2 separate regions of the Homo sapiens genome follow, and region 2 is linked to region 1. A link means that fine-mapping ties the variant in region 1 to the expression of a gene that starts in the linked region. Tissue or cell type: whole blood. Region 1 holds a variant in brackets; the other region holds the start of a gene. All regions are shown on one strand. Distances are between the middles of the regions.

The links. PIP is the estimated chance that this variant, and not a neighbour inherited with it, causes the effect.
Region 2: MGMT starts here. The variant in region 1 is fine-mapped to the expression of MGMT in whole blood (INTERVAL, PIP 0.96).

The regions. Positions count from the first base shown.
Region 1 is chr10:129,653,455-129,661,559 of GRCh38, reverse strand. All of the region lies in intron 2 of MGMT (O-6-methylguanine-DNA methyltransferase), which reads right to left. Among named protein-coding and RNA genes, the nearest start is that of MIR4297, 190 kb to the left of the region's middle. The variant A/G (reference allele first, on the strand shown) is at 3,719.
Region 2 is chr10:129,463,418-129,471,522 of GRCh38, reverse strand. It overlaps MGMT (O-6-methylguanine-DNA methyltransferase), which reads right to left and starts at 4,282. Exons shown (of 5, transcript NM_002412.5): 1 at 4,227-4,282. RefSeq lists silencers at 3,983-4,182, 4,203-4,642 and an enhancer at 3,494-4,416.

The DNA of each region.
Region 1 (8,105 bases):
TATGTATAAGTAAATCAAAGGAGAAAAAAATATAATTGGCTAATAAACACAGAAAGTTGCACAACATCAATAGTTGTCAAATGTAAGCTTTTTGAAAAATAAAAAGCCATTTTAGAAATCCTCTGCAGAGGTGTGAGAAATGGACGCGTCTTTATTACTGCTGAGAGTATGAGTTGGTACAGCCTTATGAGGGGGGTCTGGGCTGCATCCGTGAACATTTAAATGTGTATGCCCTTCGGCCAAACAATTCCTCTCCTAGACGTCTATCCCACAGAAATACTTGCACACAGCACAGAAATACAGACATACACAAATGTTCATAACACCATAAAAGCAAAAAAAAAAAGTTGGAAATAAACTAAATTTCCACTCAAAGTGGGAAAAGTTAATAAATTACAGTAATCCATAATACAGAACCAGCTGCGGAAAGCCTATGATATATTAGGAAGTTAAAGTCCTACTCACAAAAGAATATACTATGTACTCTCCAGGTAAAGGCAGGTAAGAACAGGGAAGTATATTTACAACAGAAACAGATTTATAAGGTTGCATTCCAAAGGACTAAGACTGATTGCTTCTGGAAAGAGGATTTTACGGCTGTACTTCCAGAGTTGAAGTTTTTAAAATAATAAATTTGTGTTACTTTAAAAATTTTCAAGTCAAAGAAAGGAAAAACAATGTAAAATCAACAGTGACATACGAACATTCCCCAGAAAGAGATACTCCCTACTCCGGCTATGCAAACTGTGCATGTGTGTGCGTGTGTGTGTGTGTGTGTGTGTGTTGGGGGTGGGGGATCTTCCTCTTTGTGAAAAGAAAAGGTCTCCCTTGAAGTCTTTGCATATTTCTGAGGGGTTGGCCCCCCGCAACCTAAGCACATGCATTAATTTCACATTATGGAAACCCACAGCAGAGGCAGGAGAGAAAGATGGAATCAATTCAGATAATGGTGGAGGGCTCCATGTCCCTCAGCATGCTGAAGAGGAAGCAAGGCTGCTGGGACAGAAAAGCTGCCCTTCCCAGCCGACTCCCCACTGACTCTGTCAGAGGGTCCCAAGGCCTCTCTGCAGTGCTCTGTAGGTTCTTGGGTTTTTTGTCTGTTTTAATCTCAAGTTTGATGGGGTATCAGCTTTGTAAGGGCAGAAACTATGTTTTCTTCTTCCCCAAGGTGCTCCCCCACACCTTAGCCTCTGAAGAAATGGCTGCAGGACGCCTTCCAACTAGAACCCCTGAGACAGACCACAGGCGAACAGCACTCGCCCATCCGCCGAGATACCACCCCATGCTATCAAAAAGGTTAATGTAATACTTTAACTGCAAAAAGATTTACACCAGCACGTGTTCTGGGAAATGAAAAAGAAGGATTAATAAATGAGTGCTCAGAAACGAAACCACAATTGGCAGGGAGATGAAAAATCAGAATGGGGTAAAAGTGACAGGAGAGAAAGGAGGAAGTTATAAACTTAGCTCTGAAAAGACAAATGGCTGTTGGAATTGGCAGTAAAAAACCAAAATGTCGCAAGAAATAATTGTTCATTATTTAGAAGAAAAGCACCAAAGACCACGCAAATCCTTCACTGCACGGGTGATGAAAGAGAAAACACGGCCTCATCTTCCAGCATCTACTAATGCCATAGAGAGCTGGGGAGTGGGGCAGGGATATTCGGATGACCACCCTACGTCCTGTCGCCCGTGCCCAAACATCAGGTGCTGGGCATCCGCCATTACTCAATTTCAAAGGCAATCTTTAAGGAGGACTTTGGTTCAATTTAGACTTTTACTTCTGTTTTCGTGTCAGTCTATAAATGTCAGAACACTTTTTCTAAAGTTTAATACTGTTCCAGAAAAGCTCTCCTGGCAGCTACTCATGGAATATTTTCGGGCTAAACTGCTCTTCAAAATTTCACACAGTCATTCATCTTCAGGGCCTTTGTACATGCTACTTCCTCACCCCTCAATTTGCACTAACTCATCATTAAATAATAATGCCAGTAGCCTCGGAACTAATATGCATGCTGTGTGACTTTCACTTCTGTTCTCATGAGCAGGTACAATGGCCTGTGTTCTCCAGAGAGCTTGCCATGAAGCTAACTCCCTTACGCCGTGGATAGAGGCAGGATCTGTTCTATCTCCAGCCAAACGCATTTAGAAAACAACCCAGGCAGAGACAGCTACATCTGAGTATCTTTTTTTTTTTTTTCCACACAGGGAGTCTCGCTCTGCCACCCAGGCTGGAGCGCAGTGGTGCGATCTTGGCTCACTGCAACCTCCGCCTCCCAGGTTCAAGCAATTCTCCTGCCTCAGCCTCCCGAGTAGCTGAGACTACGGGTGTGCACCACCATGCCCAGGTAAGTTTTGTATTTTTAGTAGAGATGGGGTTTCACTGTGTTGGCCAGGCTGGTCTCGAACTCCTGACCTTAGGTAATCCACCTGCCTCGGCCTCCCAAAGTGTTGGGATTACAGGTGTGAGCCACTGCACCCGGCCTTGAGTATCTTCTGAAACAACATGAAGTCATCAGAACCAAGGATTTTTTTTTGTTATTGTTGCAGCCACAAAATCCAAAGCTAGTGTATTAAGATAACATTGAATGGTACCTATGCCACAGATGGAGCTAAAATGTATACAAGAAATTACAGCGACACCTGGGAGGCCTTGAATGCTACAGCTTACAGTAGCCTACAGGGGGCGTTTTCAGCCTTAGGGTTGGGCACGCGAGCTAAGGGCGAGAACAGCAGTTAAGGACACTGAGGAAGGGGCCATCTAGGCTTCAGGATGTTTGTAAACAGGCTGGAATCCAGCTAGCCAATCAGGTTAATACATTATGACACAGAAATGTGGTGTTAATTTCATTTCAATCAACTAAACTTACTTTCTTGCGAAGATAATTTCTTCCAGGACATGTCAAATCACTGCAGAACTCCAGGATGTGGTGAGCTCCCTTGCTTTTAAAGAGCAGGCTGGGCTTCAATTCTCAAAGCATGATATTAGATATTTAGATATGTGAAAAACTCACTGACGTTAATGGGAATAACATGGACTTTCAAAGCAAGATTTCAAAATGTTGGGGTTAAAAATCCTACTGAATTAGAATCAAATAAGTCTCTAAGAAATACTGGCAAGCTAACGCAGTGCATACCAGGCGTGCTCTGAGGGTCACCTGTCATTCAGCATTTTGGTGTTGCTCTCAATGCATATTTTATAAAACAAATAGAGTAGCAAATCCCTGTGTCTGTTTTAAGGTGGCAAGGCAAGGCGACGCTGTTCGTCATTAGTCAATAATAGAGCTGTGTTAGTCTAATGGTGCCGCTCTCCCTCCCTTGCAGACCTCCAGGGCAATCACCTGTAGAATTATCCCATCTGCTGCAGCGGGAGCCAGAAGCCCGTCTTCCATTTTAGTTCCTTACTTGGGATTCATAGAAGGGGGAAAAAACTCCACAATTAGGTCTTTCAAGAAAAAGAAAAGAAGCAAAAACAAAACAGCATAATAGGACCAGGGAGATCACCTTTAGGTTTTGAAAGACCCCCAGAGATTTGATGATCTTTGGGGGATGGGGGAGAACTACCAATCTCAACACCACATTAAATATACATTTACGAGAATTTCCTCAGCCAAAGAAAATAGGATAGAGGTGCCAATTAGGGAAGGGCCGGTTCAGGCTTTGCACTCATGGGATGGGGGCTCCTCACTGGAGGGTGGCAAATCCTCCCATTCCCAGC[A/G]TCTCCATGACAACGGGGGCCTCATGAAGTCAGGCCACACTGCTAAGGGTCAGTGTGATGACTCCACACACGCTAAGAGGCCGCAGTCCTTGTGGGTCCTTGGGGGAGAGGGGGTGTGTGTGTGTGTGTGTGTGCGTGTGTGTGTGTGTGTGTGTGTGTGTGTGTGTTGGAGGAGCTGGCCAGCCTGTCCCCCCCCCAGCTCCAGCTCCTCCTCCAGGCTGTCAGAGGCCATTTCTTCAGCAGTCACCACATTTAAAACTCACCCCATCCCTCCTCCCTGCTTTAGAATTCTCCAAGACACTGACCAGCACCTGACTTTGAACTGTATTTTACCTGTTTCTTCTGTCTCACGCCTGCCCCACCTCCACCCCCAGACAAGACAAGGGGCGCCTCAGGGCAGGGTTTATCTGTTTTGTTTGTTGCTCCCCCCCCCACCCCCACAATCCCTAGAATGCAGGAGGTCCTTGCTAAGTATTTGTTACATTAATTAAAGGAAGCTGGTAGATTTCTGGCCTATTTCACAATTACTTGCCAATAAACAGTCACATACATGTGTATTCCTGAATTTTCAATGGAATGCATCAGATGGGTAGGAAAATCCCGATTCGAAGCACTTAAAACCAGCATGAGGAAAGGAAGCTAAGGGACAGTCGTCTGTGTCAACTCTGGGCAGGTAAACACACTTAAATCCCCAAGACAGGGTATCTGTCCCCAAATGAAACACAATTTGCAGTCTATGGGATCTTTTACAGTTACTTAGAACTTGCTAAGTGGTTGCAAATCCCTAGCCTAATTCATAGAGCTCACCTAACTCACAGTCATTGTGGCAGCTTTAGATGTCTTAGAAAATGAAGTGCACTATTTTCGCTGCCTTCTGCGTGGAAGTTCTTTTGGGTTAAGAAGCCCGAGAGTTGGGTCTGAGACGTGTGGAAAAACCCTCCTCCCAGCATGAAAGGAGAACCTTGGGGCCCCCAAATTACTAATCTAAAGGGGAAAGTCAAGCTGGAAACTGCTCAGGGCCAACCTGCCTCCCGTTGTATTCAGTCATCCCTCTGCTCACAGAGAGAAAGACATCTCTGATTGCCTCCTTTGGAGAGGCTTATCAGAAACTCGGTGCAACCACTTGACTCTCACCTACCTGTGACCTGGAAGCCCCTTCCCTGCTTCGAGTTGTCCCTGCCTTTCTGGACAGAACCAATGTACTTCTTACATATATTAATTGATGTATCATGTCTCTCTAAAATCTATAAAACCAAGCGGTGCCCCGACCACCTGGGGCACGTGTCATCAGGACCTCCTGAGGCTGGGTCACAGGCGCATGTCCTTAATCTTGGCAAAATAAACTTTCTAAATTAACTGAGACCATCTCAGATATTTGGAGTTCACACCAGAAAGGACATGCCGATGCTGCTTCCAGAGGCCTGGAAGTAGGCCCCACCCCTCCTCACCCTGCAGGAGGCAGTACCAAGGAACTCCCAGGGAGATGCCCAACCAGGAGCCCTCCCATGCTCGGGGCTGAAGCCCATGTTCACTGGGCAGATAGTGGCCACAACTGGTTCCCAAGAGAGGGGCTCTTGCTGCCCTCATGCCATGGATGTTTGTCACCTCCCGACTGCAGTCCAGACTCCACTGAAGATGAGTCCTGGGTGACAGCTTACATAGAACTGTAGTGCCATAGTCCTGAAGGGACTCCAGGAGGGGCACCGCACCAACTACCTCACCTCTCCTTGGCCTTTCACCTGGGTTCCCTGGAATCAACAGTCTGCATCTGTGATGTGTCTGGTTAATTCAGGGGTTGTCCGGTGAAGAGCTTGGCTAGCTGACCCTTCTGAGACCTTAGCTCAGTCCCCAGGCCAGGGCACCTCTGACTGCTGCCCGGCTAAGCTATCTGGGACCGCTGTTGCCAGTTTATTTAAACACGTGGAACTTCTCATCCACGTTCTTTCAGTGCAAAATCAGTGCCTGCTCTATATGGACACTGTGCGTTTCCTCCAGAAACACATGCGCTGTGTGTTTACCATGTGCTTTTGCAAGATTTAGAGAGCATGAGCATGAAGAGAAAATCCAAATCCATCCAAAGTGAAATTCCCTCCTGCTCACGTAACGACAACCCACAGCTATACTGAGGAACAGCTCCCTTCCTGCCTTCACTGTTAAACAGTGATTTTCATTTATATTTTTCTCCTTTTCAAGGGATTACAAAGTGTTTTACAAACTCATCCCTGTTTGTTTATGCCAGTCCCTCAGCCGGGCGAGTCACACACGAACATGCACAGAAGCCACGAGAGCTCTCCTGCAAGGGTCACAAGGAGACAACAAAGGTCTGGACGTTTAAAACTCAACGGGGAAGATTTTCCTGCTCTCCCCACCAGCTTCCGGGATGAGGCCCTCTAGAAGCGTCAGGGTCAGCGCCTTGGAAAATCAGACCTTAATGGGTTTTAAAAATGGTAATGTGTGAAAGAAATGTGTCTTCAACTGAGTCTAAAGACAGATAAACATTGACTTCCAGCCATGCAAACCACTTCTCCGCATGCTCGGAGGCGGCCCCTCCACACCAGGCCAGTGAGGCTGCTCAGGTCTTCACTCCTGGCAGACACACAGGAAACCACGGCAGTGCGCAGCCCTGCATCTGCCCAGGCCCTCCGCGGGGCCCCCACGGGACTGTGTCCCACCCCTACACTGGCTGGGGAATGGCTGCAGTGCTTTCTTTCCATGCATACCTCCGGGTGGGTGCACAAACGTCCTTAAACCAGGAGCACCTCGGTAGTGTGCTGACACCAGGGATGAGGGTGCAGCGGTCACCCTCTCCATCGAGCCTGAATGGTTTCCTCCCACTGCTGCTCCACAGGCACTTCCTTAGATGCAAGGAATTTGCAAAGACCATTATAAGTGATTTCCACTGATTTTCAGTGGGAAATCCCACTTCTCTGAGTTAGAAGAATAGTTTTCTTCTCAGGCATTTGTAGAAACAAGTGACCCACTGTGGCTTGTGCCGTCACATTCCAAATGCCCATACAGCCCCCCACCCTCAGGTATCACGTGTCATGACAAGGGGCCTAAGGTAGAGGTATGGGCAGGAGGGGGCCCTTGTCCTGCCTGCCAGGGCCAGACAAGCTTCCCGAGACCCCGGCCACCTTCCTCATACCTCAAGAGGCTTGCACACCCCTGCCTCCTCCTGTCTCTCCAGGGACTTACCCACCCATACAGGCCCTGTGCTCCAGGCAGCAGGTCCCTCACAGCCCTCCAAGCAGCCAGTGGGAATGGGGAATGCCCTATCTCAGCCCCCGCTGAGGCTGGTGTCTCGATCTGAGGTTCACAGTGACGGTCAAAGGATGCAGGCTCAGAGTGAGCAGGGGTATGTGATTTCTGTCCACTTAACACAATACCAAACTACATACTAAGGCACAGAAGGTAAAATATGAGCACCTTCTCTTCTACCACAAGAGGCTTCAAAGACATGGGAGAGTGTGGCAGGTGCCCGACCCCGCGTGCAGGTCCTCCAGGTCCCAGGCCTGTCTCTGTACCCGACCTGGGCACCTGCTCCACGCCCTGCACCCCTTTCCATCCTCGCCCTTCCCCAGCATGGATCTTCAGGTCTCTCTTCTCATGAAGCTGAGGTCTTGCCGTCTTCTCGGATCCCAAACCACAGATGGGCTACCTCACCATCCAGCTTCCCACCTGCATCTTTATCAGCACAGCTACTCCAGCTGCAAGGCGGGGGTCGGCGAGGCAGCCACCGAGGTGGGCAAGGACAGACAGGCGTGGAGGGTGCAGTAGTAGGGTGTGGCCCTCGCTCTGGGCCAGCTGTGCCCAGCACAGGCCGCAGTCTTGTCAAGGGGGAGGTGGGGTCTCCAAGCAGGGGTCTCTGAGGGCCACCAAGTTCTCCCCGCATCCCCAAAGGTGGCTCCACCTGGCCCCTTGACTGCAGGGCCGCTCTCCTCTCATCCCCAGCACAGGGTCCTCCTCATGCTTCTCCTGCCCCTAGCCCACCTGACACTCTTCACATCTGGAAATCTGTGCCCTTCATCCTAAACACCCTGGGCTGTGGGGCCTCAGTGATGCAGAAATAGCCTTCCCAGAAGGCTGTGACGGCCACCACGCTGTGCTTCCTGAGGCCTGTCCATTCGGCTCCCTGCCTCTTGTTTAGCAGAAGCATTGGCCATCACATGATGTAATCTTGCAAGCTGCCTGAGACATCTCATAGGGTGGGCCAGTCCAGTGCTGACCACAGTCAAGGGCCACCATCAGGGAGGCCACGTGAGGCCACTCCATTGGTGATCAGGGTCGGGTTTGCAGGCGTTACCCCTCCCACACGGGCCATCTCTGCAGCACCTCGGCCTGGGGGCCACTCAGTGTTTTGTAGAGGGAGCAGCCTTGATTAGTAATA
Region 2 (8,105 bases), 190 kb after region 1:
AGTAGTGGCTCTTACCCCACACAAGCAGGAGAGACACCTGAACATGATATCCCCGGCTGCCCACCGGAGTCCTCTTGACTGGGAAGTACAATGTAGCTAAAAGTTTAAAAACAAATGATAAATAACTAGCGATTATTTATTGCATTTCAACATATAATGCCCCATCTCCTTCTCTGCCCTGAGATTCATTCACTCTCTTCACCCACCTAAATATCTCTGAACATCCCGTGCCAGAATTGCCTGATCCGTCAATAAGGCAAGCGCTTTCTAAACCTCTATGCATATGACTCAATTTGTCAGTAAAAACTGCCACCCGCGCTGTGCTTGCAGAAAAATGTCCATAAACACATTATTGCGACTGGCAGAACGATGTCTATAATAAAAACACATAGATTTAACAAGTACCTCCTTTCACAAGCCACGCCGCTGGTGGACTATCCATTCGGTGTCCCCCAGCCCAGACTTCTGGGAATGGGCGGCAGGGCTGGGTGGGAGCCTCTGCTGACTTCGCAAGCATCACAGGTAGGAAATTATTCTACCAAGAAACTTTTAGGAGTAGGAGAGTGAACACACCAGGCATTTATTGCACTCTCACCATTCCTTTCATGGTTACACACACTATGACTAATTTAACAACCCTAAGAAAATGTTTTTGTAGAATTTTTTACTGGTTTTAGAACAGCTACCTCCAGGTGGGGTGAAGGGGACACGAGGCCTCCTTGGAGAACCCTGCTCTGCTGCTGAGCCACTGATTTAACTGAAAACAACTTGTGGTGTCAAAACCAAGTTTCACCATTCAGAGCATCCGCATGGGCAGCTCCCAGGGCGGCCTATTCAGTTACTTAGCTGGAGGAGCTTCGGGAGCGCAGGCTGCTGAGGACTGGCTTTGCTGCCGGGACCGAGCACCTTGGCAGGACTCAGTGTTTGATTCCTTTCCGGGTGATCCACACCTGCCAAAGCCACTCTAATACTTCAAAGATCAACAAAGTCACAAAAATGATTTCTTCCTCTTCATAAATCACTTCAATAGCTCTATGAAGAAGTCAGTCATTCATTACATTCCATACTATATTCATTAGTTTCCCCCAAACTATGCAGCCCTCCGATATAAGCTGTACTGTTAATTTTTTTAAGTCAAAAGAAAACTAGACTATGTCCACCAACCAGCAGATATGCAGCAGTTAATGAAAAGCCACAGAACACACATCTTGCAACATTTGGTCCACAACACAAGGTCTCCAACTTCTACTTACCTATGTCCAAGACAGGCCTGCAGAGCTAACAGCGTAGGTTCACAAAATCCTCATGCCAACCAAGGACCCTCCTGCACAGCTCAAACCTCCTCCCTCCCATATAAATCCTTTCACTTCAAAACAAGAGTGGGGCGAAGGGCTGGCTTGTGCATCATGAGTGTCTATATAAAGACCACTCTCACCCCACAGTCAGGTGATGGTTTATGTGTCTTCTCTGATTTTAAATCCTTCAGGTTTCGTTTAAATAATATCCTGCGAGGCCAGGCATGGTGGCTCATGCCTATAATTCCAGCACTTTGGGAGGCCTAGGAGGGAAGATCACTTGAGTCCAGGAGTTCGAGACCACCCTAGGCAACATACGGAGACCCTGGCCTCTAAAAACAACAACAACAACAATTAGCCAGGTATGGTGGCGCACACCTGTAGTCCCTGGTACTTGGGAGGTCAAAGCAGGAGGTTCGCTTGAGCCCAGGAGCTTGAGGCTGCAGGGAGCTATGATCTCACCACTGCACTCCAGCCTGGGCGAAAGACCAAGACCTTGTCTCTAAAAATAATAAAATAATATTCTGCGGTAAGACCCCAGCTCTTTCAGAAAGTAGCTGCATTAAAAACTACTTGTCCCAGGAAACAGAGGGTCAGGAAGGACCGTAGCAACAGCCCAAGAGCCGAATGAGCACAGGGCCCTGCAGGGTCTGGGAGGCTCAATGTGTCCCCTGGAGGGACTAGAGTCCCAAACGGAAGTCAAAAATCTCAGGGCAAGTGGATCTGGACATGGAACTTTATGCTGGGGAAGGGGGTCAGAATGAAGTGCAGAAACAAGAATAATGCTAAAGGAAAAGATAATGCAGAAAATTCAGTTTTGCCTCCATTTTTTTTCTATCAAAGAGAATATACTGAAAAGAGCATTAGCACCAAAAAGAAAAATGGAAGGTCTGAATCACTGGCTCCTAAATGTGTGTCCTCTGCAAAACAGAACAGACAATTTAGTAACTTTATTTTATTATAAAATACTGAAAGAGTCAGGGTTTTGGTGTCCTAAGAAAGGGTGGGAAGAGGACTGGAGAGGAACAAACTCTGAGGGGGCAATGGGGAAGGCAAGTTCTTTTTCAGGCCCTTCCTACCCCCTTCTTCCCTGCAAAAGGACAGAGGAGGCCCTGATTGAGACACCTGGGGAGGAAACCCAAACAACGAAAAGTAAGGCCCAGGTGATATCAAAGTAAGACCTCAACAAGGTTCAAGAATCTGAGCAGCTGAACAAGGTGCTACCCAATGTATACCTAGGGCTCTATTTCTTTCAACCTTACTAACAGCAAAGCCTTTTTAAAGTAGTGCCTAATACTATTAGTTAAATCCTTATTTTGATACAGATTTTTTTGTTTCCCCTTCAGGACAGTTTCACTCTCGTCGCCCAGGTTGGAGTGCAATGGCGCAATCTCGGCTCACTGCAACCTCCGCCTCCCAGGTTCAAGCAATTCTCCTGCCTCAGTCTCCCAAGTAACTGGGATTACCAGCATGCACCACCACGCCTGGATAATTTTTGTGTTTTTAGTAGAAACTGGGTTTCACCATGTTGGCCAGGCTGGTCTCAAACTCCTGACTTCAGGTGATCCACCCACCTCGGCCTCCCAAAGTGCTGAGATTACAGGCGTGACCCACTGTGCCTGGCCCAGATTTTTTTTTTTTAATGAAGATATATACATTGAAAAGTACCTGAGTATAGCTCCGTACTGGTGGTCTACTTCATCCAGGCCCCTGACTGTGGCAGACACTACTCCACTATTCAAATTCCAACCCGAGACAGAGGGCCCAGGAAGAAAGACACGCGGCAGAGCAAGGCCAGCTCTCCTCTGCTACTTGCAGGCAGACTCCGGGTCTGGGCAAGTATCCTGGCCCTCTGAGTTAACGTGATATTAACAATCAGCCAGGCTCTTGACGCGGTTTCCTTCAAAGTTTTCACACCCCCACCCACCAGGTGCGCTAAGCTTTGGGTTTTTAAAATCTTGTTCATCTCCCAGAGTGTTTTAGCCATTGAGAGGGCCCTGAAAATAACAAAACCATCTCCTAGACACCTGCCCAGGGATGGGGGAGATGACGGGAGAGCCTGACTTAACAGATACTCTATAGGTTTCTATTTGGATGTCTATGTAAATAACCAGTCTAATTCTCAGCTCTCTGTGCTTAACATTCTACTGAGAACAGCTCTCTGGACCAAGCCGCTTCCCTGTCTGATGATGATCTCAGCAGGCATAGGTTGCACACACATGTACAAAGTCTGCTTTCCAGGACAGAAAGCCAGCTACTCAGCTGAAGCAACTGAGAGCAAACACCACCCTGAGATTTCAGGAGATGATGAACCCAGGAGTGCGAAATACATAGTTCAGAACTCCTCTGCGGTGTTATAACCGACATTACGGTGCCCAGTGTGTGTGGCTCTCCAGCGAGCCTTGCTTACTCTAAGTGTTGATGAATACAGTTAGGGTATGATGTACACAAACACCAGCCATAGTAACCAGAAGGCCCCTAGAACTTGGCCTCCAGCAGGAAGGAAATATGGGACTCTGCCTAAGTATGCTAAAGGGTTGCTGCAAGCCAAGGCCCGCGCAGGGGCTTCTGGAAGCTTCCTGGAGCAGCTGGCGGAGGGAAAGCTGGCAGCATGGAAGGGTAGGAAGAACCCGGGGCCCGGGCCTGGGGCTGGCACCTAGAGGTAAGGCAGGGGCTGCCACGACCCCCGCCACACGCCAGTCCACAGTCACTGCAGCGCAGCCTAGTCCAGGAACCCCAGGCCCGGGGAAAGGCTGGGCAACACCTGGGAGGCACTTGGGGCGCACCTGGAGCTCGCCCGGGATGGGTGGGGGTCAGGGCGGCCCCACACCCGACGGCGAAGTGAGGGCGCCTGCAGGACCACTCGAGGCTGCCACCGTCCCGAGGGAGAGCTCCGCACTCTTCCGGGAGCGAGGCGACCCAGACACTCACCAAGTCGCAAACGGTGCGCACCGCGAGGACCTGCGGGCGTCGGGACGCAAAGCGTTCTAGGGGCGCGGGCTGTCCCAGCATATCCGGGGCGCGGGGGCGGGGCCGAGGGGCACGGGGATGGCGGCGTGGGGCGGGGTCTAGAGCGGGGCGGAGCCGAGGACCTGAGAAAAGCAAGAGAGCGCGCGGGGGCGGGGCCGGGGCGCGCGGGGGCGGAGCTGGGGCGGAGCCCGGGAGGGGCGGGGTGTTCCCGCCCGACCGGGTCGGCGCATGCCCTGTGCGGCGGCGCCGGGCCTGAGGCAGTCTGCGCATCCTCGCTGGACGCCGGCACGCCGGCCCTGGTCCTCCGGCAGCGCCGCTGCCCTGTGCGCCTGACCCGGATGGCCCTTCGGCCGGTACAAGCCGGGCGGCGCCTTCCCAGCTTCCGCCTGAGGCTCTGTGCCTTAGTTTGCCAAATGGCCCGTACCTTTTCCTGTCACAGGGATAGTCCGCGGGCGTGCAAGCGACCTGCCACGTGCCCGAGTGGTCCTGAAAGCGCGCGGGGGTCGTAGGACGGCGCCCGCTTAGTGAGAATCCCGGTCCTGCTCGGGGCGGCTACGCTGAGCCCGGAGCGCGAGTCTCTCCCCTCCTGGTGCCGCTCCCCTAGTCAGGGACCCCCAGACCAGCAGAGACCCTGTCAGGGGGCCGTGGGGGCAGCCTCCAGGGCCTGTGGTGGGCGATGCCGTCCAGGGGCTGCAGTCACCGATGGCCTAGACACTGCCAGAGCCTGACTCAGCCGCTCTCCAGAGAGCACACAGGGTGCCAGGCCCTGCTTGGGGTTGTGTGGACGTTATTAGGAGTTGAATTGTGTCCACCAGAGAAGCTATGTTGGAGTCCTAACTCCCAGTACCTCACAATGTGACCTTATTTGGAGATGGGGACTTTACAGAAGCCATCAATTAGTGGGCCCCTCATCCAGTATGACTCGTGTCCTTATAGGCAGAAGGCCGCTTGGGGAGGAGGATTGGAGGGCTGCACCTGCAAGCCACCAGAAGCCTAAGAGGACAGACCCTTCCCTGGAGCCTTCGGAGGGAGCAGAGGACACTCTTCCCTGGAGCCTTCAGAGGGAGCAGGATCCTAACACACCTGGGTTTCAAACTTCTGGCCCCCGGAAGTGTGAGACAATAGGTTTCTGTTGTTTTAAGCCACTCAGTGTGTGGCACTTTATTATGGCAGCCCCAGGCAATGGGTACAGAAACCATTGTCTCTAACGTGGTTGGCATAAGCACCCCAGGGAGTAGTATCATCCCTGGAGGCTTCGGAGAGGTCACACACCCCTTGGCAGGATCCCATCCAAGGCCCACATGTTCTAAGCCACCATGCTACGGGCCTTCTAGGTTCTGTTTGTTATCTTAATGGAAAGGGGTCTTCACCTTCCCGGTGAAGTTTCCCTGTTGGGATTCGGCCAATGCTCATACCTTCGTATTTGTGACTTGCAGGATCCAACATATTAGCATGAGTGATAAGGGTTGTTCAGAGGAGAACTTCAGCAGGATTTGCTTTGGGATGAGCCCTGGTGACAATACAGGCTGCATCATTGATCCTCTGAGGTTCCCCACCCCGACCCTGCCTTGGATGAGACATGTTTTAAATAGCTGCTTGTGGGAAATAAACTAGGCCCTGAGTACACGATATAATGGTCAAATCAAGGCACTTTTTCCCCACTGAACCTGGACACAGCCTCGGAATCCTTCTCAACACTGTGTTCCAAGCAGCCATTCACATTTAAACTAATGTGGAAGGACAGATGAAACATGTTTGCCCTTGGCTCTGGTTTTTTCCATTAGCCTTCTATAAGACTTCGGGAAACTCGTCTGACTTCTCTAATCCTCAGTTTCATACTCTGTAAAGGAGTCTCATGATAACGTACCCTACGTGTGTACAAACTATCCTTCCATATTAGGGCATGTGTGCATAGGGAAAATAAACCACCAGCACCACACCACACTACTAAGAAATAATGCTATACACCTGGCCACTTACAGCCTGTTACTACCAGGACCCAGTTAGAACCGGGATCTTAATAGAACCAAAGGAAAAACAATGCCGAAATGGAATCAGAGTGCCGACTGATATTCTAACAAGTGTGCTGTTAAGTAGTTTTGCAGTTAACACATGACTCATACGTTTATCTGAATAATATTTTAAGACGAATCCCTAAACTCTTAAGAAAAAGAGACTGGCCAGTCTTAGCATCTCTAATTCCCCACCCTAGGAAAGAAAGGCCAATGTGGTCATCCAAAGGCCCTTTAGGAGGGCCCTGTGGGAATGGGGAGGCGGTCCACGAGAGAAAGTGCTGGCTTCCCAGGGAGATGTGTGGACCTGGCCCTGGCTGTACTGAAAGAACTCAGTCCCCTTGCTGGCGTGGTGGGAAGAACTATGTGAAGGGCCACAGCTACTTCAGTGGTAAGGACTGTGTCAGGGGCTCCAGGATCAGGAGCCAAATAAGGGTCTCAGTGCAGAGGGGAAAGAGGAAAAAGGCCACCACCTGACCAAGGACTGGCCTGCAAAAGACCAGGATTCAAGGATGTGACTGCTTAGGCTGTCTGATGAGCAGAACTCAAACTCACACTCCTTACACCTGCTGGTGCAAGCTCCTCCCTTCATCATGGTAATTTCAAAAACCCAAGTTTTCATCAAGAGCTCCCCACGCCTCTCCCCCTTGTCCCATTACAATCTCATCATCGCCTGTGTGTTCGTCCTACTGTTAAAGGAACACAGGATGGCTCCAAAGCCGGGAGGTCGCCGGGTCCACTGAAGAGTAAGGAACACAGGACAGGGAGGCTCGGATGTGGTGCCAGCCCTGCCCCTCACTGAGCAACCACCTGACTTCTCTGTTCATAGGATGACAGTGCAGGACTGGTTGGGTGAGATTCCTTTGAGGTCTCCCATCTTCAGATTAACAAATCACAACCCCTTTTCCTCCAGACACAGATTCCTATGAAGAACTTTTTACAAAAGAGGTGGGAAAACCACAAAAGGGTATGCTCAACTGCAGTCCGACTTCCTCAAGGAGCTCCCTGGATTTCCTTTAAGATCAGCCAGCTTTCTTGTGGGCACTGGGAACAATGTTAATCTGCATAGTTTCTTTAAACATCCAAATGGATACCTTTCGGGTTAAGCAAATGAACATGACATGCGATTGCTTCTAATGATTTGCAACCCAAGAAATTTGTTTAATAAGCCTGTCTTCCCAAGCTACTTTTGTGACATTAGAGACCACTTACAACAAAGCTGCCTTCAGTAGTCAAACTTAATCCTTACTACCCTACCTTTGGGAAATGAAGGGATTTTATAACGATCACATAAAACCTTATGTGGTTTGAAAGCCCCAAACTCCGGACAAATGTGTGATGGTCGTGTAACAAAAGAAACATATTACAGAGCTCCCCACGTTAAGTGTTTTACATATAGTTTGCTTTTAGGATAGCATCTCAAGTGGAGGGTTTTGCTGATTAACACAATTGATTTTCTTAGTCCCAGTGTTCCTGTAAATGTTGGAGCCAAGAGCTGGAGTCAGCGCCTTGGACCTGGGAGAGGCCAGGAGGCCAGGGAGCCTCAAGCACTCTGGAGGAAGAAGCCTGAAATGAAAAGGTGGGGGCCATCGGTACCGGGGTTGAATGCCAGGTGCTTCTGATTACGCTCCTGTGTGACACTAGTTGTCAGCATGGCAGAGGCATCATGGTGTAACTGCAGCAGGGAGTGTAATCTACTAGTGGGCAGGAGAGAGGGCGGGAAGGAGGGACTTCAGGCTTTGCCTCACATAGAGGGTAAGGGAATGGTGCAGGGTGGAGAAAGGGGATGGAGGTGCAACTAAAACAGGAGGGGCTCCTTAGCTCTTGC